Regions from separate parts of the Homo sapiens genome. Here all the other regions are linked to region 1. Evidence: fine-mapped expression QTL. Tissue or cell type: whole blood. Region 1 holds a variant in brackets; each other region holds the start of a gene. All regions are shown on one strand. Distances are between the middles of the regions.

Region 1 (8,105 bases):
GCTGTTTCCAGACATGTCTATGAAATGTTTAGTCCCACAAATGCTGTGCCCTGCAGCTAGGAGAGATGCAAAGTGAACTGAAGATATGGTCCAGTCTCCAAGGAGATTACTATCTAGGGGAGAATTTACATGCATAAAAACATGGACTAGAAACAAAGGTCAAGGCCCCCGACTGCACCGACACACAGCCGTCTGGTTTGGATCATGCAACACCACTCTGTGCCTTATGTTGATATGAAAACCTGGGCATCCCCAGTCTCAGCTGCTCTGAGCATTTGGACTCTATCTTGTCAAGGAAGAAAGAACACTTTGTGACTGTATTTTTAGGGAGCACAAGGCAAGGCACTAAACAATCTGGCCTACCAATCACCCTAAGAATCTTGAATGTTTTGCTTTTAACTCTATTTCCTTCCCTTAGCATGAATTTTTATTTTATCTTATTTTATTTTTTGAGATGGAGTTTCGCTCTTGTTGCCCAGGCTGGAGTCCAATGGCGCAATCTTGGCTCACTGCAACCTCCGCCTTCCAGGTTCAAGCGATTCTCCTGCCTCAGCTTCCCGAGTAGCTGGGATTACAGGTGCTCACCACCACGCCCAGCTAATTTTTGTATTTTTTTTAGTAGAGATGGGGTTTCACTATGTTGGCCAGGCTGGTCTCAAACTCCTGACCTCAGGCGATCCACCCACCTTGGCCTCCCAAAGTGCTGGGATTACAGGTGTGAGCCACCACGCCCGGCCATGAATTTTTAAAAGAAAACAAAACCCTTTCTGCTTGGAAAAATGTCCATCTTGGAAATTGGCACCTAGGATGCCTCTAGAATGAGAGATAAGCATCTATCATTGGCCCAGAATTGAAACAGCCACATTATTGTAGGAACAAATAGTTGGAAAATAATACCATCTCACGCTATACCAGGAATTACAATGCACAAGATACTTGCACATTCCCAATTTGGTCCTCACAGCAGCCCTGTGAGGTAGGCAAACAAGTGATATCCTCTCCATTTTACAAGGGGAAAAAATATGTTTGAGCCAGAGCAATTGCCACTGTAAATTTTTCTGGGGGGAGGGCGGCGGGGACAGAGTCCTACTCTGTCGCCCAGGCTGGAGTGCAGTGATGCGATCTCAGCTCACAGCAACCTCCATCTCCCTGGTTCAAGCAATTCTCCTGCCTCAGTCTCCCAAGTAGCTGAGAGTTGGGCGCCACCATGCCCAGCTAGGTGCATGTTGGCCAGGCTGGTCTAGAACTCCTGACCTCAGGTGATCCTCCCGCCTCAGCCTCCCAAAGTGCTGGGATTACAGGCGGGAGCCACCGCGCCTGGCCTGCCATTGTTAATTTTAACTCCACCCTTGCCAAAGATGAACTCTTAACATGAGGAGAATTATTTAGGCCTAAAGTTCTTTGCTTATAATATTATAGGTTGGTACAAAAGTAATTGAGGTTTTTGCCATGGGGAGGCGGCGAACCGGCAAGAGTAATCCCGATAAAACACACTGTCAAAAAGAAAGACCTCAGACACCAGTCCCCACCATGCAGAACATGTTCATGTAAGTTATTCTTCTAGGTAACCCCTCCTCCTCCTCCTCAAGATCTCAGCTCTAAATCACTTTCTCAAGGACGCCTTCTCTGTCCTCCTGTTATACACTCATAGTACACTGAATTTTATCTCTATGACACTTAACAGTTTACACTACACATGGACTCTGATTTTCATAACAGAGTTCATGATGTTCTCACTCATCATAATCTACCCAGTTCTAGGGGGTGGGTCATGGGACCAGGCAGTGCGGACTTGAAAAATAAAAAATAAAAACAGGCCAGGTGTGGTGGCTCATGCCTGTAATCCCAGTACTTTGGGAGGCCGAGGTGGGCAGATCACCTGAGGTCGGGAGTTCGAGATCAGCCTGACCAACATGGAGAAACCCCCGTCTCTACTAAAAATACAAAATTAGCCAGGCGTGGTGATGTATGCCTGTAATCCCAGCTACTTGGGAGGCTGAGACAGGAGAATCACTTGAAAGCAGGAGGCGGAGGTTGCAGTGAGCCGAGATGGTGCCATTGCACTCCAGCCTGGGCAAAAAGAGCGAAACTCCATCTCAATTAAAAAATAAATAGGCCGGGATGGTGCCTCACACCTGTAATCCCAGCATTTTGGGAGGCCGAGGCGGGCAGATCACAAGGTCAGGAGATCGAGACCATCCTAGCTAACATAGTGAAACCCTGTCTCTACTAAAAAAATACAAAAAAATTAGCTGGGCGTGGTGGCGGGCGCCTGTAGTCCCAGCTACTCAGGAGGCTGAGGCAGGAGAATGGCATAAACCCAGGAGGCAGAGCTTGCAGTGAGCCAAGATTGTGTCACTGCACTCCAGCCTGGGCGACAGAGCAAGACTCCATCTCAAAAAAAAAAAAAAAAAAGAGTACAGATATCACAGGATACAAGGACATTAAATAAGATAGAAAGGAGGGAGGGAAAGAGGGAAAGAAGAGACCACATGTAGACCCGACTGTGTTTCCAATAATGTGGAAGCTTAAATGTTAGGTTAGAATATTATAGATCATATGCATTAAAGCTTCATACTGCAGACACTTGTAAACAGTAAATTCCTGAAAGACCTATGAAGTTGGTTGCAGCAGCAATATCAGCACTTGTCATTTGGCAAGCTTCTTTGAAGCTAGCCAATAGATAATAGAGGTCACTATATACATACATATATATATGTATGTATACATACATATATATATGTATGTATACATACATATATATATGTATGTATACATACATATATATATATATGTAGAGAGAGAGAACAGAATAAGAGTAACAAGAGTAATTTTTTTTTTTTTTTTTTTTTTGAGAGGGAGTCCCACTCTGTCACCCAGGCTGGAGTACAGTGACAAAATCTCGGCTCACTGCAACCTCTGCCTCCTAGGTTCAAGAGATTCTCCTGTCTCAGTCTCCCAAGTAGCTGGCCACAAGTTTCGCTATGGCCGGCACGGTGGCTCATGCATGTAATCCCAGCACTTTGGGAGGCCGAGGCGAGCAGATCACCTGAGGCCAGGAGTTTGAGACCAGGCTGGCCAACATGGCGAAACGCCATCCCTACTAAAAAAAAAAAAAAAATCTGCCAGGTGTGGTGGTGGGCACCTGTAATCTCAGCTAATTGGGAGGGTAAGGCCCAAGAATCACTTGAACCCGGGAGGTGGAGGCTGCAGTGAGCCAAGATCATGCCACTGCACACCAGCCTGGGCAACAGAGCGAGACTCTGTCTCTAAATAAATAAATAAATAAATAAATAAATAAATAAATAAAATTTTGAGAAAATCTAGTTGATCAATGGCCTTTCAACAGAGGTCTAAGATCCAATTAGCCATGGTCCAGGGGAACAGGGTATATAGAATTGTCCTTTCCAGGGCTAAGTGAGGCAGGTCAGAAAGCCTCTTTGCAGGCTAGTCATTACTCTCAATTTGGAAGTAATTTATTTAAAATTTCAAAACAAGGGGTATGAGGGAAATACTCTGTGCACAATGATGTATCCCTTCAGCCCCAGAAACCCTCTGTAGAGCTCTAGGATTTGCAGTCAGCATTTGAAAAAATAGGGGGCACTTATTAAAATGGCAGATTCTCAGGGGCCAGTACCAGAGATTCAGATTAAGTAGCTTCAGAGTCAATGAACAGAAAAATCTGCCTTTAAAAAATCAGCCTGGGCAGTGGCTTACACCTATAATCCTAGTGTCTTGAGAGGTCAAGACAGAAAGATCATGAGGCCAGGATTTCGAGACCAGCCTGGGCAACATAGCCAGACCTCATCTCTACAAAAAAATTAAAAAATTTGCTGGGCATGGTGGCATGCCCCTCTAGTCCCAGCTACTTGGGAGGCTGAGGTGGGATGATTGCTTGAGCCTAGAAACTAGAGGCTTCAGTGAGCTATGATCATGCTACTGTGTAACAGAGCAAGACCTACCTCGAAAAAACAAAATTCAGCACCTTCCACAGTTCCGAAGGCAGTCTGTGAAGAAATAGTGTGGTAACCTCATTTTGTCTTGAAATATCTTCCGAAAGATCCTAAACGTTGCCTTTTCCTAACTACCACCTTCATAACAAATAACTTTCCATGATAAAGGGGACATTATTTCTGGCCTCCCCAACACCACTACACCCTTAAAGCCCACTTCCTTCCCCAGCACACACAAACTCCTATACAAACTGTATCTAGATAAAGGCGATAGAACTGGAAGTTTTCTGATGGCTGGGCACAGTGGCTCACCTCTGTAATCGCAGCACTTTGGGAGGCCGAGGCGGGTGGATCACCTGAAGTTAGCAGTTCAAGACCAGCCTGGCCAACATGGTGAAACCCTGTCTCTACTAAAAATACAAAAATTAGCTGGGCGTGGTGGTGGGTGCCTGTAATCCCAGCTACTTGGGAGGTTGAGTCAGGAGAATCGCTTGAACTTGGGAGGCGCAGGCTGCAGTGAGCCAAGACCGAGCCACTGCACTCCAGCCTGGGCGCAAGAGTGAGACTCTGTCTCAGAAAAAAAAAAAAAAAGAACTGGAAGTTTTCTGAAAGCTGGTCTTTTTGTTCCTCAGTTTCTATGGTTGGCCTTACCTGCTCAGTCAAGCATCTTTTATTAATAAGGCCTC[G/A]AAATACTCAATCTGACCTAAACAAAATTGACTATGAATGTTTTCCTTGCAAAGATCACATATGCAAGAAAAATGTTTGAAATGTTCACCATCTTTAAAAGAATCTGAAGACACCATTTATAGTTCTGAGTAAAAGGTTTGAATTTAAGCTGTTGCCTCCCTGCCTGCAACAGCAGTAATTCAAGAATTCTAAGTTTTGGCAAGGCACTAAAGTTTGCTGCTTCAGAATTTTTAGAATTTAAACAAATTTTATTGCACCTGTAAATGGAAAAACCCTGTAGAGCAGAGCCTCCCTAGAAAGCCACTTCAGAGACAGGAACCACAGAGGGCTTAATGAATCCCACGTGTCCACAAAGCGTGGCTCAACAGCCGGCAGTACATATGCCAGCAAACACAAACCAGATAGATGCCCTTAATGACCCAGGCCCATTGTAATCGGAACTCCTCGTTTAGAAAGAGAAAAAAATGAACTCTCCTGATTGAAATAACTCCCTCCCCAAAACAAAGTCAAATCCCAATTTCTTTTGAGGTTTACAAAGAGCCCTGATGTTTTGTTGTTTGTGCGTAAATAATACTTAAAGGTGCTCACATTTCTCAGAAACAAGAAGAAGAGAGGAGCTTTCAGAGTTCACTTGATGCCAAATGCAGCCTCAGCCAGACACGTGAGAACCACAATCATCCTTTGGAAACACTATTTAAGATCAAAGGGGTCTATCCTGTACCCTGCTATTCTCATCTCCTGGAATAGGGAAAGACTTGTCAAAAAACAAAACAAAATGAAACCAAAACCAACAGGCAAAAAAACCCCAAAAGACAAAAAACAAAAACCCAAACCCAGATCCAAGCCTGAAGATGGAATAAATGATTTAGCTTCAGAGTTGTTGGTATATAACCCAGCTAGTCCCCACTCCCTCCTATTCCAGCCTTCACCACACCTGCCCCCCCACCTTTATCCTTATATAAAACTTCTTTCTTGAACATTCAATTAAGCAAGTAGTGATTCACACCACACAAGCATATGCTTTAGACTTTGAATACTTACCTCCTAGTTTCTCTCTGCAGAGGATGAGCCTTGTTTGGGGGAATGGTTCCATGAGTCAAACCTTTGCACAAGTTTTGTGGCTCCTATAGCACTCTGTAGTACTGAAGCTGTTCTTCTGGTGGTTCCAGGAGAATTGTCTTACCAACTACAGTGAGACCACTAAGTTTGGTTACCTGCCGTGTTATTTCCCCCATGCAACAGAACCTCTAAATGAAAATACAGGTCTGGGCTGGGCATGGTGGTTGTAATCCCAGCCCTTTAGGAGGCCAAAGCAGGAGGATCACTTAAGCCCAGGAGTTTGAGACCAGCGTGGGTAATATAGCCTGACTCCATCTTTACAAAAATGAAAAAAAATTAGCTGGATGTGGTGGCAGGCACCTGTTGTCCCAGCTACTTGAGAGGCTGAGATGGGAGGATCTCTTAAGCCCAGGAGGTTAAGGCTGCAGTGAGCCGTAATCACGCCACTACATTCCAGCCTGGATGACAAGGTGAAACCCCATCCGAAAAAATAAAAAGAAAGCACAGGTCAGCATTTCATTCTATGTGACTTAGTATAATCACCTGAATGAAATGATAAATGAACCAAAATGGATGAGAACACACTGATATCAACAAACCCCAATGGCACCAAAACAGTTACGCTTCTGGGCAAACTGTCCATTACGGCAATTTAACAGACTTTTGCTCCTTTACTCAATAGGCAATTTAACTGAGAAACTAGAGAGCACTTACAGGAAAAGATGGTAGAGAAACGGGGCAGTGTCCGGCTCTGCCACTCACTCACACAGTGGCCTTGAGCAAGCTGCTAAACCTCAACATGTCCATTTCCACATTTGTGAAAAAAGGGATATGACGAAATAGTGTGATAACGTCACAGGAGAGTCAATGAGTTGATACATATTAAGCATTTCAGAAGAATGCCTAGCACATGGTAAGCACTTTGTTGGCATTGGCTACTATAGTGTAGACCTTCACCACCACCCTTTTTTTTTTTTTTTTTTTTTTTGAGATAGAGTCTTGCTCTGTTGCCCAGGCTGGAGTACAGTGGCGCAATCATGGCTCACTGCAGTACTCACGGCTCACTGGAGTACAGTGGCGCAATCACGGGGCTTGAACCCCGCCTCCCGGGTTCAAGCAATTCTCCTGCCTCAGCCTCTTGAGTAGCTGAGACAGCAGTCGTGTGCCACCACGCCTGGCTAATTTTTATATTTTTAGCAGAGAAGAGGTTTTGCCATGTTGGCCAACCTGGTCTTGAACTCCTGGCCTCAAGAGATCAGCCCGCCTTGGCCTCCCAGAGTGCTGGGATTACAGGCATGAGCCACTGTGCCTGGCCCCTTTTCTTTTTTTTTTTTTTTGAGACGGAGTTTCACTTTGTCGCCCAGGCTAAGTGCAATGGGGCGATCTCGGCTCACTGCAACCTCCGCCTCCCTGGCTCAAGCAATTCTCCTGCCTCAGCCTCCTGAGTAGCTGGGATTACAGGTGTGCGCCACCACGCCCAGCTAATTTTTGTATTTTTAGTAGAAACGGGGTTTCACCATGTTTGGTCAGGCTGGTCTCAAACTCCTGACCTCATGATCTGCCCACCTCGGCCTCCCAAAATGCTGGGATTACAGGCATGAGCCACCGCGCCCAGCCCCCTTCTTTCAATAAAACAAAATACCTAATTAGCGTTATCTGACAGTGTCTCCGAATTTGTCACCAACTGATAACTGTTGTTTCAATAAATATTCATGTGAGCCAGGCACGGTGGCTCACACCTGTAATCCCAGCACTCTGGGAGGCCAAGGCCGGCAGATTACCTGAGGTCAGGAGTTTGAGACCACCTTGGCCAACAGGGTGAAACCCCGTCTTTACTAAAAATACAAAAATTAGCCAGGTGTGGTGGCACACGCCTGTAATCCCATCTACTCCAGAGGCTGAGGCAGGACAATTGCTTGAACCTAGGAGGTAGAGGTTGCAGTGAGCCCAGATCGTGCCACTGCACTCCAGCCTGGGAGACAGAGTGAAACTCTATCTCAAAAAAAAAGGTTTTTTTTTAGTAATAAAAATTGACTTAAAAAAAAAAGTCCTACCTGTAATCCCAGCACTTTGGGAGGCTGAGGTGTGTTGGTCACTTGAGGTCAGGAGTTTGAGACCAGCCTAGCCAACGTGGAGAAACCCCGTCGCTACTAAAAATACAAAAAAAAAAATTAGTCGGGTATGGTGGCAGGCACCTGTAATCCCAGCTACTAGGGAGGCTGAGGCAGGAGAATCGCTTGAACCTGGGAGGTGGAGGTTACAGTGAGCCAAGATCATGCCACTGCACTCTAGCCTGGGTGGCACATTGAGACTCCATCTCCAAAAAAAATAAAGGATAAAAATATAAAAATTCCCAAACATTCTCCACGCACCTTGGGTAGTAACCCAAGTAGAACCCCCAAACCT
Region 2 (8,105 bases), 57 kb before region 1:
CTATTAAATTGACAACTTGTGAATTATATAAACTCATTGAAAAATATTCAAATTTCTTTCGATTTGATCTCACACTAGCATTGAGGAAGATAACATAAAACTCACGCCTATAATCCCAGCACTTTGGGAGGCTGAGGCGGGTAGATCACCTGAAGTCAGGAGTTCGAGACCAGCCTGGCCAACATGGCGAAACCCCATCTCTACTAAAAATACAAAAATTAGCCGGGCATAGTGACGCATGCCTGTAATCCCAGCTACTCAGGAGGCTGAGGCAGGAGAATTGCTTGAACCTGGGACGTGGAGGTTGCAGTGAGCCAAGAGCGCAGACAGATCAAGACTCCATCTCAAAAAATAAAATAATACAAAATAAAATGCAGAATGTCACGAAATGCCTATGTTAAGAGGATATTTGATAGAGTTTTCTGAAATTTGACAAAAATACTAAACATATATATAAAACCAATAATGAACTGAGGTGAAAAATAATTTTTCTGAATTATCACCAATAAAAGGCAAATACTGATCAAACACACTAGAGAAAAAACTAAATTATCTTTCTATTTTCTTTAGAAAATATTATAAACTAACATCATATGAAGAGATGATTAAAGAGCACATAGCCATATAATGTAAGGGGAAAAAAGTATGAAGAAGTATGCCTGGCAGTTACTTAATAAAAATATGTTACGTTAAATTTTTGCATTATTTGTAATATTTTTCAACTTTTAAAAATTTATAACGTTATATTTTGTTTTAGTCTAAATACATATTCAGTTGTGTACCTACTTTTGTATCTAAAATTGTTATTCTTTTTCTTAAGGAGCCTCCACTCGCCAAATGCACATAAACTTCAGGCCCCACAAAATTTGAATCTGTCCCTGTTATCCACTTTTCTCTCTACCTAATTGGTCTACCCTCACCCATGCTTGTCCTCTTCCAATCTGTTCTTCATGCCACAGTCTAAAGGATCTTCTAAAAGTTCATGTATGATTATATTTATCTTACATTCTTTCAGTAATTTCCAATTAGCCTTACTATAAAAACCCAAGTCCTTAAAATAGGATCTGGGTCCTCACCACCTCTCTCCCTCTGCTCTAACCACACTGGCTTCTTTTAGTTATTGCAATGCACCAGCTCAGAACCTTTGCATATGCTGTACTCTGTGCTTAGGAGACATTCCACCACCCCAATACTCCATTAACAAATTATCTCCTACTCAAACTTCAGATTTCACTCAAAGATCACTTCCTCAGGGCACCTTAGACTAAATCAGCCTCCCACCACCTTAAATGCTCATTGCACCCTTTACTTTTCCTTCATAGCATGTCTATTTGTAATCATATACAAGATACAAGATTAGATTGTCCATCTCTCTGCCATTAGACTGCAAATTCCATGAACGAGGGACAATGTCTCTTCAGCACTAGTGTAGCAGTGTTACCGGAAAGGGGTCCTGATCCAGACATCAAGAAAGGGTTCTTGGATCTCGAGCAAGGAAGAATTCAGGACAAGACCATAGAGTAAAGTGAAAGAAAGTTTATTAAGAAAGTAGAGGAATAAAAGAATGGCTACTCCATAGGCAGAGCAGCCCGAGGGCTACTCGTTGCCCATTTTTATGGTTATTTCTTGATGATATGCTAAACAAGGGATGGATTATTCATGCCTCCCCTTTTTAGACCAGAGAGGGTACCTTCCTGACATTCCCATGGCGTTTGTAAACTGTCATGGCGCTGGGTGGGAATTTAGCAGTGAGGACGACCAGAGGTCACTTTCATCACCATCTTGGTTTTGGTGGGTTTTAGTCGGCTTCTTTACTGCTACCTGTTTCATCAGTAAGGTCTTTATGACATGCATCTTGTATCTTGTATCTTTATGACCTCCTATCTCATCCTGTGACTTAGAATGCATAACCATCTGGGAATGCAGCATAGCAGGCCTCAGGCTTATTTTACTCAGCCCCTTTTCAAGATGGAGTTGCTCTGGTTCAATCGCCTCTGACAGCAGCATCCTGAACAAAGTGGGCAACTAATTACACAATTTCTGGCCTCAAATAGTTTATAATCTAACCTTGAAAAAAATAGAAAAGAAACAATTTTACAATTTGGGGCTTCGATACAGATGAAATAGGTTATTTTTTTGTGCAAGAAAGTCTTCCTGGAAGTCTTGAAACCTGAATACAGAAGGATTAGTTATTCTAACCAGCTTGAAAAATTGGCCTAGGCCAAGGCTGTAACCAAGTATTCTGGTTGTCTAGGAACTGCTCTGACCACACTTCCGGCATAATTGTTTCTTGCAGAAAAACTACTTCAGTTTTTTTAAAGCTTCTTTTGCCTTCTGTAGGCTTACTTAAAAAAAAAAAGTATTAAGATCCTTTTGTGGTTCATAAGCCTGATGATTGGGTTTTCATGCTATTGTGTGAGTTACCACCCCTACCTCAAACCTTGTTAGGACTCCGCGCATTACCCCTCTGTGTGAAAAAAACAAAGTAATAAAGGTAATTTTTTTTTTTTTGCATAAGCCCTATCCTTGTACACATCAGGTTTCAACGTGTTTCCATCATTATTTTTACCTTATAGTATAGTGTTTTCACGAGTTTTTTTTTTTAATACTTTAAGTTCTGGAATAGTTTTCACGAGTTTTAAGAGACTCTTCTTGGCAAACAGTTCAACTCAGAGAAAATACTTTTACCAGCAAGGAGGTATACCTTGTTATATCGGTCTGGGGATGTGACTTGACAGTTCACCTTGCCAGGAATATCTCTGTGATTTTTTGTTTGTTTGTTTGTTTTGAGACAAGAGTCTCGCTCTGTCCCTGAGGCCAGAGTGCAGTGGCTCACTGCAAGCTCCGCCTCCCGGGTTCAAGCGATTCTCATGCCTCAGCCTCCCGAGTAGCTGGGATTACAGGCGCCTGCCACCACGCCCAGCTAATTTTTGTATTTTAGTAGAGACGGGGTTTCCCCACGTTGGCCAGGCTGGTCTAAAACTCCTGACCTCAGGTGATCCACCCGCCTCCCAAAGTGCTGGGATTACAAGCGTGAGCCACCGCGCCCACGGTGGGCGGTGAGAGGAGAGGGGCAAAGTCTAATTATTCCAGAGCGACCACAGAAATATCTGGAGCTAGTTTCAAGGGCTATTCCCCGCTAAAGATTACTTAATAATGCAGTTGGATGACCACGTTTCAAGATTTTTGTTCGATCTGCACATCCTCCAACATGTTCCAAGAGGGTGTTTAAAAAGTCACCAAGGACCATTAGGATAACCATTAGGATAAAGCTGTCAGGACATCCCTAAATTGTTTGAAACTACGATGTCTGCTGAGGAAAGAAGAACATAATTAGGCTTTGGAGTTAAGAGAGCTAACCAGTTCCGAATTTAATGTCTGAGCCAAATGAGAATGTTAAGATTTATCTCACAAGTTGTAGAGAAAATTAAAAACGATTAAACATCCGGGCCTTGAATAAGTGCCCGTCGACTTGGGGATTAAATATGGTAGAGTCCACTTTCCTCACCAGCTGATGATAATTTCTGTTATGTACAGTCCTCCTTTCTCTTCCTTTATCGGTTGGTTAGTATTTGCCAACTCTTTCCTGCTTTTCATCTTCTCTTCCCCCCATTTAAATCTTTCCACCAAGCGCTCAGAAACACGTACGTCCTACCAGAACGCAACCCGAGCCTGCGCGAGAGGTACGTACAGGTCTTGACCTTTTCCCGGTTCTCCGCCCTTTTCCCGGTTCTCCGCCCTTTTCTCCGGTTCTCCGCCCTTTTCTCCGGTTCTCCGCCCTTTTCTCCGGTTCTCCGCCCCTTTTCCGCCACTGCCTGATGCCTCCCTCCAGGCTGCGCCAGTCCGCAGCCCCGCCCACGCCGGCCGTCACGTGACCGCGCAGCGTGCTCCGCCCCCTGTCCCTGGCTCACGTGATCGCGCCTAGGGAGAAAACGTCTGACTCCAGCCACCGGCCTTCAAGGCACGGCTTTTTATTCCTTCGGCTGGTCGGCCTCTCGCCCTTCAGCTACCTGTGCGTCCCTCCGTCCCGTCCCGTCCCGGGGTCACCCCGGAGCCTGTCCGCTATGCGGCTCCTGCCTCTAGCCCCAGGTCGGCTCCGGCGGGGCAGCCCCCGCCACCTGCCCTCCTGCAGCCCAGCGCTGCTACTGCTGGTGCTGGGCGGCTGCCTGGGGGTCTTCGGGGTGGCTGCGGGAACCCGGAGGCCCAACGTGGTGCTGCTCCTCACGGACGACCAGGACGAAGTGCTCGGCGGCATGGTAACTCTTCTGTTTCTGCCCCGCCCCTCTATCTCTTGGGCTGACTACCCGGTTTGTTGCTCTCTTTCCCGGTCCCCACCACCCTCCTCCCCGAACTGGCTGTCTTATCCTTGGGTAGGTTTGGTTTTCCCACCTGAGGCCCTTTATGCCGGTGTAAGGGACTGCAATACTCTTTTCCTTTCTGGATTGAGGCACATGCGTACAGCACACAGAGCTTCTAGTCTGGACCGTACTGCTGTGGAGTTTACGTTAATATCTCAAGATAAACATGTGGAGACCAGTGGAGGATGGGTTGAACCAATGAGGATCAGGTGCTGTCTAAGAGCACTCAAGGCCTGATTGTTTTTCTTTTGGATTAGAGGATCACAGACAAGTCCAGTCCCCTTTATGAGGGACCTAGACCACCTCCACGTTTGTGCCTGTATACAATGTCTGTATCTGATGTCAATAAAAATAAGCCTGGGCCGGGCGCGGTGTGTCACTCATGTAATCCCAGCACTTTGGGAGGCCGAGGCGGGCGGATCAGAAGGTCAAGAGATCGAGACCATCCTGGCCAACATGGTGAAACCCCGTCTCTACTAGAAATACAATAATTCTAGCTGGGCGTGGTGGCGCGCAGCTGTAGTCCCAGCTACTTGGGAGGCTGAGGAAGGAGAATCGCTTGAACCCGGGAGGCAGCAGTTGCAGTGAGCCGAGATCGCGCCACTGCATTCCAGCCTGGCGACAGAGCGAGACTCCGTCTCCAAAAAAAAAAAAAAAAAAAAAAAAAAAAAAAGGCCTGAAGTGAACTAATCTGGTAGGCCGACCGTCGAACTATTGAGGGTGTGTGTTGCCTCACAAGAATCAAGAAAATTCAATTAGTGTGATTGAACACCTGACTGTTGCATTAGAGACTGTCAGTGTTTCATTTTCTATCTAATGGGTGTTGTCACAAGACTTCATTTTTTTTCCAGAGTAAATTTTGCTTGTGTATTGCAGAATTATGGAATGTGTGACCTTTGGAAACATCCACTCCAACCCCTTCCCCATGGAGGCCCAGAAAGCAACTTGCCCAAGACATGAGTAGTTGAGGCAGAGTCCTCTGACCCTGGGTTCAGCATTCCTCTCTTCGCTTTAAAACCAAATGCTTTATTGCTTTCTTCGTTTCAGTTCTCTTTTTGCTTTCAGCTGAATGCTGAGACTATGAAATACTCCAGGCAAGACGTTCCTAACTTTTCTTGTGTAGTTACACACCCTAGCTCAGTGTCCTTCAAACCTCTGGTCCCAACCCTTGAGTGAGTTATGAAATCAGTTTAGTGAGTAACTACCAACATTTTTTATTTCCTCTGGAATAGAATAGAATAGAAAAGGTCCATGTGTGTGAGTGTGTGTGTTACACTTGATAAAGGTAATCATTATCTATCTCTCTTTCTTCCCGAGTTGTAAAATATATTTCTTAGGTTGATGCTCAAGAGCTTGAGAGTCTTTTATAGCTGATGTTTTAAGAGGCTTGCATTTTGACTACACATTTCTTCCTGCCATATATGCTTCATTGTCTGTTAGTTTCTACCAAGCCATGTTGACATTGGTCTTAATTTAATTTTCCTCCTACACTTTAGGTTCACTACTCTTCCAACTACTGCACTTACTTGTCTGCTCACAAAATTCCTTTTTTATTAAAAAAAAGAAAATGTGTCCTTGAAGAGTGTTTTGTCCAGAAAAAGCAAGCCTTCTCTAGCAGTGACTTAAGTACTCAGTTAAAAGGTCAGGCTTTTTTAGGTGTTGAAAACAAAATTGATTACTTAAATATAAGGTATTCAGAGTTGTTTCTTCAATTCTTATAAACCACAGCTGTAGTCTGTGTGTATTTGAGGTCTCTTTAGTATGTTAATCCAATTTGCTTCGTTAAGCCAGTAGCAGATTTTTTGAGTCAGGGTCTTGCTCTGTCATCCAGGCTGGAGTGCAGTGGTACAATCAAGGCTCATTGCAGCCTTGAACTCCTAGTCTCAAGCAGTCCTCCTGCCTCAGTCTCCCTAGTAGCTGGAACTACAGGCACATGTCACTACGTCCAGCTAATTTTTAAATATTTTGTAAAGACAGGATTTCTCCATGTTGCCCAAGTCGGTCTTGAACTCCTGGACTCAAGTAACTCTTGAACTCCTGAACTCTTGAACTCCTGGACCTCAGCCTCCCAAAGTGCTGGGATTACAGGCATGAGCCACTGTCTCGGCCCAGATTCTTTTTTTTAATAAGTGTTTCTACTGGAGAGAGGTACCAAAATTGAGTGGAGGGCATAAGTCAAACTTAATGTTCCAAACTCAAGAATTCTGGCTTCTCTTCTAGGCTTTTTCAGAATATTCTACCACTAATTGTCAAACAGGACTCCAAGGGGAAGAGCTAGGACAAGAGCATTTGAGAACTTACTTGGAGCCGAGCAGAGTATGAGGATTTTTATACTTGTGCTTCAGTCATCACAGGAGTCCTCTGCTGTACATAGTATCCTTATCTTAAAAGGAAACTAAAACTGGAAGGTGGTTAAGTGACATGACTAAGTTCATATAGCTAATATTGGACAAAGCCTGGGTATCTTATGACCTCAGATCACCATGCTTTTTCTCCTATTCTAGAATACTGTGATAATAATCAGATTTCATTCCACATACCCACACCAGCATAATCACACCATAGGTCAGAGAGTCTGCAGGTGACATTCGGGGATGCCAGTGACATCATGGAACTCCTTAATTTACATGTAAAACTTTGTGTATAATATCTTCATTTTTGTGGAAAGAGCTCTAACCTAAAAAAGATTACAGATTGCTGCCATAGTTGGCAAAATAAATAGTGGTTAACCCCCACCAATCTCACTCAGGTCAAAGGATTGTATATAGCATTTACAACATGATTTAGATTTATAGTGGAATTTTTCAGGCATCTTTGAAATGCTCTTTTATATAGTAGCATCGTCTTTAACATTTCATTGTATTTGTTCCAGGTATCTGTGGGACTCTGTTTTTATTTTTTATTTTGCCAGGACACTGTTCTTATCACTTTCTTGATTTTATTTAAACATCATTATAGTGTGGTGGACACACTGTTCTTCACAGAAGCATAAGCTGCTCTTTTAAAAATAATTCATGGCCGGGCGCGGTGGCTCACGCCTGTAATCCTAGCACTTTGGGAGGCCGAGGTGGACAGATCACGAGGTCAGGAGTTCAGGACCAGCCTGGCCAGCATGGCGAAACCCTAAAATACAAAAATTGGCCGGGCATGGTGGTGCGTGCCTGTAGTCCCAGCTACTCGGGAGGCTGAGGTGGGAGAATCACTTGAACCCAGGAGGTGGAGGTTGCAGTGAGCTGAGATTGTGCCACCGCACTCTAGCCTGGGTGACAGAGCAAGACTCCATCTCAAAAAAAAAAAAAAAAAATCATTTACTCTAAGAAAAGTGACATTTGGCCAAAACCACAGGCAAGTGAAAGAAGAAACTATGATGAAAGGTAGGGGAAGAATAATTTTTTTTTTTTTTTTGAGTTGGAGTCTTGCTCTGTCACCCAGGCTGGAGTGCAGTGGCGCGATCTCGGCCCACTGCAACCTCCTTCTCCTGAGTTCAAGAGATTCCCCTGTCTCAGCCTCCCAAGTAGCTGGGTTTACAGGCACCCACCACCACGCCCGGCTAATTTTTGTATTTCTAGTAGAGACGGGATTTCACCATGTTGGCCAGGCTGATCTTGAACTCTTGACCTCAAGTGATCCGCCCACTTCAGCCTCCCAAAGGGGTGGGATTACAGGTGTGAGAATAAATATGTCATTGCTTCACTGAAAGCAAAACAATTTCCATTGTTAGCCACAGAATTATCAGAATTGTCGTTT
Region 3 (8,105 bases), 120 kb before region 1:
CAGGGGCCTACTCGAATGTCACCTTGCTATTTAAAATTCCACCTCCTTACCCCTTTTCTCCTAAACGCTCTTTATTTCTCTCTACACTTTATTTTTATCCATGGCACTTATTACCATCTGACATACTTTATATTTTATTCATTGTAAGCTCCATGAGGACAAAAAACTTTGGTCTGTTTTGTTTTTTTCCATTGCTATATCCCTAGAACCTAGAACATTACTTGGCACAGAATAATCAATAAATATTTATTGCATGAATGAATAATCAAGACAGGTTTTCAAGTAACTAAACCTAGAATATATTTTTTGACATTCCAGAGGCTCTAAAGAAGGGCAGTGATGATCCTTCTGTATTCTAGCCCTATGAGTCCTCCTTACCTTTCTCCTCCATTCCTTTGGTATTCCTGTGGATAGCCTGGCAACTGCCTTGAGAGCATCGTACCACTAGGAACAAAGAAGAAATCCCAGGAGGTGATCACAGTGACCTAGATAAGCACTTTGCAATCTTTTTCCCATCTTGACATTCATAGAATGTGCTGAAATTTGCACAGCACAATGGGGTAAACAGTCAAAGCTTCTTTCAGACAGAAGTGATCAGTCCATGGCTATTACTGTGCCACGTCCCACCCCTTGGGCACCCTTAACACATCTGTGACCCCTTTGCAGTACAAACAAAATGGTTGGGAAGCTCTGGTTAATAAGCCAAAATATATATTATGGGGTTCAGAATAAAAGACATTATGGTACAGGTGTGAAATTTATTCATTTTAAAATTTTTCACACATGTACCATTAATAGAAAGTGCAAAATTTGTCACTGCAAATATAAACCCAGGCCACTTGTAGCTCAAAAGCTACTTTAACTGAAATATTGTTGAAGTGACTCATCTTCACATTCATATCAAAGAATACGTTATTTCCACTTTGAGAATATATCTCAATGTGCCCTGTTGGTAACCCCAAAAGAAGAGTGTTTTCAAAATCAAAGTTACCTGCTGAAAACCATTTTGACCTAAAGATGGCTCAAGAGTGAATTTCAACTTGGTATCAACTCCTGAAAGAAAAATACATAAATAGATGTTATTTTTGGAGACTATAACAAGTTATATCAAAAATACTAGTAAAAGCTTGATTCTACTGAATCATCACAATTTTTTTTAAAGTATGTATCTTTACTAAATTTTAGTCAATTTTGCCAAAAGGTAAGCATATTGATTCTTAAAATAGGAAAATACCCTACAGCAATAGAAAGTGCCTTACTACATATGACGGTGGTTTACATAGATGCCTGGAGTACCACAAAAGCAAAAACAAAAACAAAAAATGACACCACAGGCTTGGAGTCATACAGTCCTCCATTCGACTTGGTTCCTAGACTGAAACAATTTATCTAACCTATCTCAGTCTCAATTCCTTTTCTTCTTTTTAAGAGATACAGTCTCAATATATCACCCAGGCTGAAGTATAGTGGCTATTCACAGGCACAATCATAGCACAATGCAGCCTTGGATTCCTGGGCTTAAGCAATCCTCCCACCTCAGCCTCCCAAATAGCTGGGATTATAGGCACGTGCTACCACGCACAGCTAATTTTTGTATTTTTTGTAGAACAGGGTTTCGTCATGTTGGTCAGGCTGATCTGAAACTCCTGATCTGAAGTGATCCACCTGCCTCAGCCTCCTAAAGTGCTAGGATTACAGACATGAGCCACGGCACCCGGCCCCATTTTTTAAAGGAATTATTGCCCAAAAGTTCAAGGACCAAGAAATGCCAAATACTATCAATAACATTAAGTTTTACAAATTTCAAAAGTCAAATGATGGCATTTTTGTTTCTAAGATTGTTGATTGTAGATTAGGTGTACTAAAAACTTCTCCACAACTTCCACTTCTTAGTGGTTGGTATGAATAGGAGCAATCTTCAGAATTTATGAAATAATAGTAAGTAATCAAGTAGACTGGTCTTTTAAAAAATATATATATACACGGAGTCAAGAAGCTGGAAAGAGATGTATCTGATTTTTGCAAGCCCATATCAGTATGCAGGTGTTCTTGGAACCCTGGAAGAGCGCTGTAAATTCCTGAGTTGGGTCCTAGGTTTCCAAAGTAAGCTGTGGCAGAGAATCCCAGGCATCCAATCAATGCCTTGATATTTCTTTTTAAAGCTTCAGGGCCATAACCATACTCTGCCTGGATAGATAAGTTTTTTTTTTCTCCGAAGGAATATTAAGTACCACATGGATCCGCCTCTCTCTGAGGTGGTTTAAACGAAGTCCTGCCCAAACATAGAACGGTGATAACAACGGCCACGGGAGTGTTTCCAGCCCAGCGCACGCTTTAAGGCACGCTGAAAACAAGTGAGGTTGCTGTCCGGACGCGAGGTGCTGAATGGAGGAGCGTATAATCATGACGTTTGCTTGATAACAAAGACCAGGAAATTCGGTCCCGCGCTGACTTATTCTTGCCACACTACAAGGATTCCCTGTATGTCTGACCAATATGCTCTTCTGACTTTTCCGGGGCACCTGCTGGGCATCATGCCGATTGCCTTCTCATAGTGAAACCCAGCAGGGGTTAGTTGGCCAAAACCACAACTATCCTCTCATGATCAAAAATGAGCAAGAGGATTTAACTGAAATTGATTCGCCGCCTGCATGCAAAAGCTTAAACCAGGTCACTTTCACCCCACTTTTCTTTTCTTCTAACAGAATACGGGCAGAGAGAAGGTTTATGTTTCATCTGATAATCACAGCTATTCCGGATTCAGAAATACAAAACACTTACTTTTAACGTGGGAAGGAGATTTAAAAGAAAAAAAAAAGAGGTAAAGGAAGATGGTGAATAAATACTACAGCCTCTGCAACTAGACACTTCCTAGGGGAGAACAACAAAGAAACCACGAGGTTGGGAAAGGCAGTGCCGCATCCCACCCTTTGGGACTCTGCAGCTCGATTCTCCTGCGGCTCTACAGCAGGTCCCCAAGGCGCTGGCGCTGGGGGGCGGGGGCCGGGGACCGTGAACCCGCCTGGAACGCAGCCGGTGCCACTCCAGGGAACAGGTGAGCGCCAAGCACCAGTGAGAGTACAGCCAACTCCCTCTGCAGCCACTCCTTGCCAGAAACCTCCGTGCCCAGGAGCCCGCGCTAGGGCCAGGCTCTTAAAATCCCGGGGAGGGATGCCGGGTGATGGAGCCGACACGGAGTTATGCAGTCTGGAGAAGCAGGGATGGGTAAACACAGGCTGACAGTGGGAAGGGCCTTGCCTAGCACGACCAGGCTCGTTCCTGGACCTCACCTATGAAAAGGATCTCCTGCTGCTCCCCACTCGCACTCACAAATTACAGGCTCCAGTTCGAGCTGACCCCGGCACTCACGCTGAAGGGACTCTTGGGAAAATAACACCCGATTTTGCCTTTGCAGCCACTGTCTTCCTCCTCCGACCTGCAGTGTCAAACCTGTGCCACTCTCCGCCCCCACACACCTCTCGCAAGGTCTGGCTTCCTGCGAGCCTGGAACACAATAGGTGGTGCGGCCTCTGAGGGCCCGGGCAGCCACCCGCACTTCCCCGCCACGCGGAGAAAGCCGAGCACACAGGCCGCAGGGTGGGGGTCCGCGGGGAGAGGGTGGAAGCAGCGGGTTCTCCGCGCCTGGGGTGGCCGCTGCCCCACCCAGGCCCCCGTCTGCCCTCTACCCTTCCAGACCAATCGCTCCCTGCAGGTGCCAACGCGGTGCCCCGCACCAGGTGGCACGCGGACTTTCCCCAGAGCTCCCCGGCCTAGACGGAGTCAGGCTAAGGCAGAAGCGCGGGCAGCCCCGGCGCTACTTTACAGCGCCCCATCTGCAGCCCTGGGGTCCTCACCCGGCTCCAGGGTGCACAGCAGCCGGGGCGCGGTCCGGGAAATGCAGCTGCGCTTCTTGAGCACATTGCTCAGGATGGTGCCCACGCCGCCGCCCTGCCGCTTCAGGCATCTCCCCCCGCGCCTCAGAGACCCGGTCAGCTTGTCCTGCCGCATCCGAGAGCGCCCCGGGCTCTGGCACGGCTACCGTCCGTCTCGGTCCCCGCTACCCCACTCGCTGAGCGGCTGAGCTCGCGGAGCTGGGTGAGTGTCTGCGGCTGACCGGCCCGTGGGAGCAGGGAGCGCACAGCCGGCTGGTGCTGGAGGGTCACGGGGACTTACGGGGCACCGCGGGAGCCGCCGAGCGCAGGGAAGCCAGCAGGCATCTGCAGTGCGGAGCCTGCAAGGCTGAGGCAGGAGATCGCTCGAGGCGGGGAGGGCGGGAGCGAGCGAGCGAGCGAGCGCGTGGGAGACGGAGGCGGCGTGCCCGCCCCCAATCCCGGCACCGCCGTGCGCAGGCGGGGCCGCCCCAGCTCCCCCGTGCCCAGAAGCGCCAGAGACAGGGAGCCAGTGGGCGCGTAACTGCGTTCGGGGACCAAAAGCAGAAACAGAGATGTCCGTGCTTCTCCCAAGATCTGGGAGGGAACAGAGGGAGCACCAAGGGGCGCCAGTCTCAGGGGCAGAACACCCGTAAGGGCAAGCATCCTCTCCCACTTCCGAGCAGTCTCAGAAGGGGCCATGACCCAACCGCAGGCGGCGAGGCACACGCTTCAGCCCGAATTGCGTTGAATTATTTCCTGGCAGATTAGAGAGGCGCGGAGAAAATGAAGGAAAAAAAAATTATTGTTTCTTTTAGAAAAATGGGCTTCCAGAAAAAAAGTGTTCTCTTTTCAAGCAGTATTAAAAAGTAATGTTCCTCATCTCTCCAGCCAGACTTCAGTAGTTCTGAACTATTGCCCATCATTATGGTTTAAAAAAAAAAAAGTCATTCTCAAACGGCAATATTCACCAATAGACTATTTACCATTAAAATGGATGAAAGAAAGGGTGTGGGGGGGGGATATAAAGATACTTGTGTTTGCTAATATTTATAAAAAGAAACACTAAATGGATAAACCAAAAACAAATTAGAAAACTTGTATAGGAGAAGGAACATCGTGGAGGAGACAAGAATGGAAAACTGAGTCCTCTCTTGATGTGCCTCCTGTAGTTTTGGCTCTGGAATAACACTATATTAATAATATTAACAAATTAAATTTTTAAAAAACCAGGATGATGGAACAGCATGCCTATAGTCCCAGCTACTTGGCAGGCTGAGGTGGGAAAATTGCTTAGCCCCAAGAGTTTGAGGCCAGCTTGGGCAACATAGCGAGACCCCATCTCTTAAAAAGACATAAAAATAAAAATAAAATTTGAAAATACATAAAATAGTCTGGGCACGGTGGCTCACACCTGTATTCCTAGCACTTTGGGAAGTCAAGGCAGGAGGATGTCTTGAAACTAGGAGTTCAAAGCTGCAGTGAGCTATGATTGCACCCCTGCATTCTAGCCTGAGCAACAGACCTAGTCCCTGACTATAAATGAATAAATTATTTTTAAATTGTAAAAGAAAACCCTAACAATTGAAAATTAATGGAAACAAATCAACCTAATGGACTATCCCACTTATAGCATAAGAACACAGAAAAAAATAATTCTCTCTTAAGTTGACATAGAACACAATATTATGACTGTACATCAACAGTTGTACATATTCCCAGAGCAAATAAAACTGCAAAGAAACCTTACATTTCATTCAGTAGTATTATTGTTATTAATAATATTCATATTTCTTAAATTCTTATATCCACTACAGGATAAAGCAAATAAATAAGTATGCTAACATCAAATGGAGCCAAGATGTTTTCAGTGTAATAGAAAATATGTGTATAACCAAAGTAATTAAGTTTTCTTTAAAATATTACAATTATATATTTATATGGGAAACACTAGTATGAACTCATTTTTTTTTCTTTTCAAAAAAATACATACATTCATTGAATAGGTTTAGAAGTAAGGACAACTCAGCAGCAATGAACACCCACAGCACCCAGGTTATGGTCTCTAAAAACCATTCCCCACTCAAAGGAACTAAGGCTCCTTTGAGGAGTGACTGATTCCAGGTTTGGGACAGAAAAAGTACAAGATGACCCTGAAACATTTTGATGAGCTCAAAAAGAAAGGAAATGTTTCACAATTAATGGGGTCAAGTCAAAAAGACACAAGAGTCACATAAATAGGCTCCTTCCTATTGGCCAAAGATGAAACAATTTGAACTTGAAAAACAATGGCTGAGCCTGGACAACATGGCAAACCCCCATCTCTACAAAAAAAAAAAAAAAGCTACAAAAATTAGCTGGGCATGATGGCACACACCTGTAGGCCCAGCTACTCAGGAGGCTGAGGTGGGAGGATCACCTGAGGCCAGGGAGGTCAAGGCTGCAATGAGCCATTATCGCACCACTGTACTCCAGCCTGGGTGATGGTGAGACCCTGCCTCAGAAGTAAAAACAAAAACAAAAAGCAATTAATTGCTGGGTCAGGTGCTGTGGCTCAGGTCTGTAATCCCAGTGCTTTGGGAGGCCAAGGTGGGACAATCACTTGAGGCCAGTAGTTCAAGACTAGTCTGGGCAAAATAGCAAGACCCTGTTTCTGCAAAAATAAAATAACTTAGCCAGGTGTGGTAGTGTATGCCTGTAGTCCTAGCTACTTGAGAGGCTGAGGCAGGAGGATCACTTGAACCCAGGAATTCAAGGTTACAGTGAGCTATGATTGGCCACTGCACTCCAGCCTGGGTGAGAGAGCAAGACCCTGTATCAAAAGAAAAAAAAATGGCTGCTATTGATTGAAAAAATATTGAATATTTTTAAATGCCTTCATAAAGATAGCCTAAACAAGCCAGAAAAAGAAGGCATTCCTATGACGCTTCCCAGAATTTGAGGACAATGTCAGAAATGGTGCAACCCTAAGAATGAGCTGTAAAAGAATCTATTAAAAATGAGATGAGCCATCTGCAAAAGTAAAGCAGGCTAATAAAGGACATGCAAGCTATTCAGTTGTAGCTGCCTGGCAGAGGTAAAGATGCTTTCAAAAGGGCAGTACTCTTTGAAAAGGCATCACTTTAGAAAATGAAGTCACTGTTTAAGCTGGTCATGACTAATTGCTTGGCTTAAATTTCCCAACCTTTTGCTGCGAGCTCCGGTACAGAAATTTATCCTCCATCAACCATCAACTTTTTACAGTTTTGGTACATGTTTGTATCCTTCAGCTTTGTATTAATTTTAATAAGACACTCATTGGCTGTTGCAGCCTATCTCAGTTGTACTGAGAGCCATAGGAAGAGGTCTGATGCTTCCCTTTGACCAGTTTTTTAGAGGGCACAGTATACCCTGGGGCTGAAGATGGTGATGAACACCCGAAGTCAAAGAGAGGGAACTGGCAGGAGAGGGAAAATCCAGCAGGACAAGTTGGTAACTGCATGCACAGTCTCGTCTTCCAGACCTCTCATATGCTCAAATCTTAGAGGGTTTTGTGTTCTATTTTAACAAGAGAGGCTATTCATGCTCGGTTTCCATCACTAGGCAAGCCAAGAGGACAAGCAATCAGCTCTGTTCTACAACACTGTCTCTGGAGTGGAGAGGAGGACGTCCTGCCCCTGGGGCTGTGACATATGCCACTCAGACCATCCAACTCCCTTTGGCTCTGACGTCATGCTCACCAAGCAAACTTTGGATTGTCATTTGATTTCCCATATAGACTCTGCTGCAGCACAGAGAATATACTGACCAGTTAATAGCAGTCAATACCCCTGAGTTCACTTACCAGTCAGTAACCTGAAGACACCAAATTTCCAGACTGCCAAAGCTGACATCTAGACTCTAGGCTGTCAACTCACCCATGTGTCATGACTGATAAAAAGACCTCTCTTTAGATTCTTCTTTACTTGTAATACTTTTCTTTACTAGTAGTGACAGAAGCTTGTTTGCTTGCAAAAGGAACATTCAATTTCACCTCTTTTAGATCTATTACGAGGAAAATCTAACTCTGTTTTTAAAATAAAATTTAAGAGTTTCTGCTATGATGGCAATAAACAGCAAAGGAATTAGATAATATTATTTTGTTTACATTGGAGAGGAAAGTCAGGACTGCCAACTTTTATAGCAAACAGATAATTACATGAGCACTAAAACACAATACTCTAAAAGCAGCGATGGCCCAAGCCTAGTATTATGTTG

What was found. PIP is the estimated chance that this variant, and not a neighbour inherited with it, causes the effect.
Region 2: it holds the start of GNS, and the variant in region 1 is fine-mapped to the expression of GNS in whole blood (TOPMed, PIP above 0.99).
Region 3: it holds the start of TBC1D30, and the variant in region 1 is fine-mapped to the expression of TBC1D30 in whole blood (TOPMed, PIP above 0.99).

What each region holds. Positions count from the first base shown.
Region 1 is chr12:64,698,359-64,706,463 of GRCh38, reverse strand. No RefSeq gene overlaps it. Among named protein-coding and RNA genes, the nearest start is that of GNS, 57 kb to the left of the region's middle. The variant G/A (reference allele first, on the strand shown) is at 4,640.
Region 2 is chr12:64,755,236-64,763,340 of GRCh38, reverse strand. It overlaps GNS (glucosamine (N-acetyl)-6-sulfatase), which reads left to right and starts at 3,935. Exons shown (of 14, transcript NM_002076.4): 1 at 3,935-4,256. The coding sequence starts at 4,065. It overlaps LOC124903113 (small nucleolar RNA U13), which reads left to right and starts at 2,368; the gene lies at 2,368-2,473. It also overlaps a transcript of TBC1D30 not described here. RefSeq lists an enhancer at 4,509-5,389.
Region 3 is chr12:64,820,783-64,828,887 of GRCh38, reverse strand. It overlaps TBC1D30 (TBC1 domain family member 30), which reads right to left and starts at 4,241. Exons shown (of 12, transcript NM_015279.2): 1 at 3,855-4,241; 2 at 992-1,053; 3 at 379-444. The coding sequence starts at 4,008. RefSeq lists enhancers at 1,309-1,358, 3,036-3,543 and a silencer at 4,182-4,421.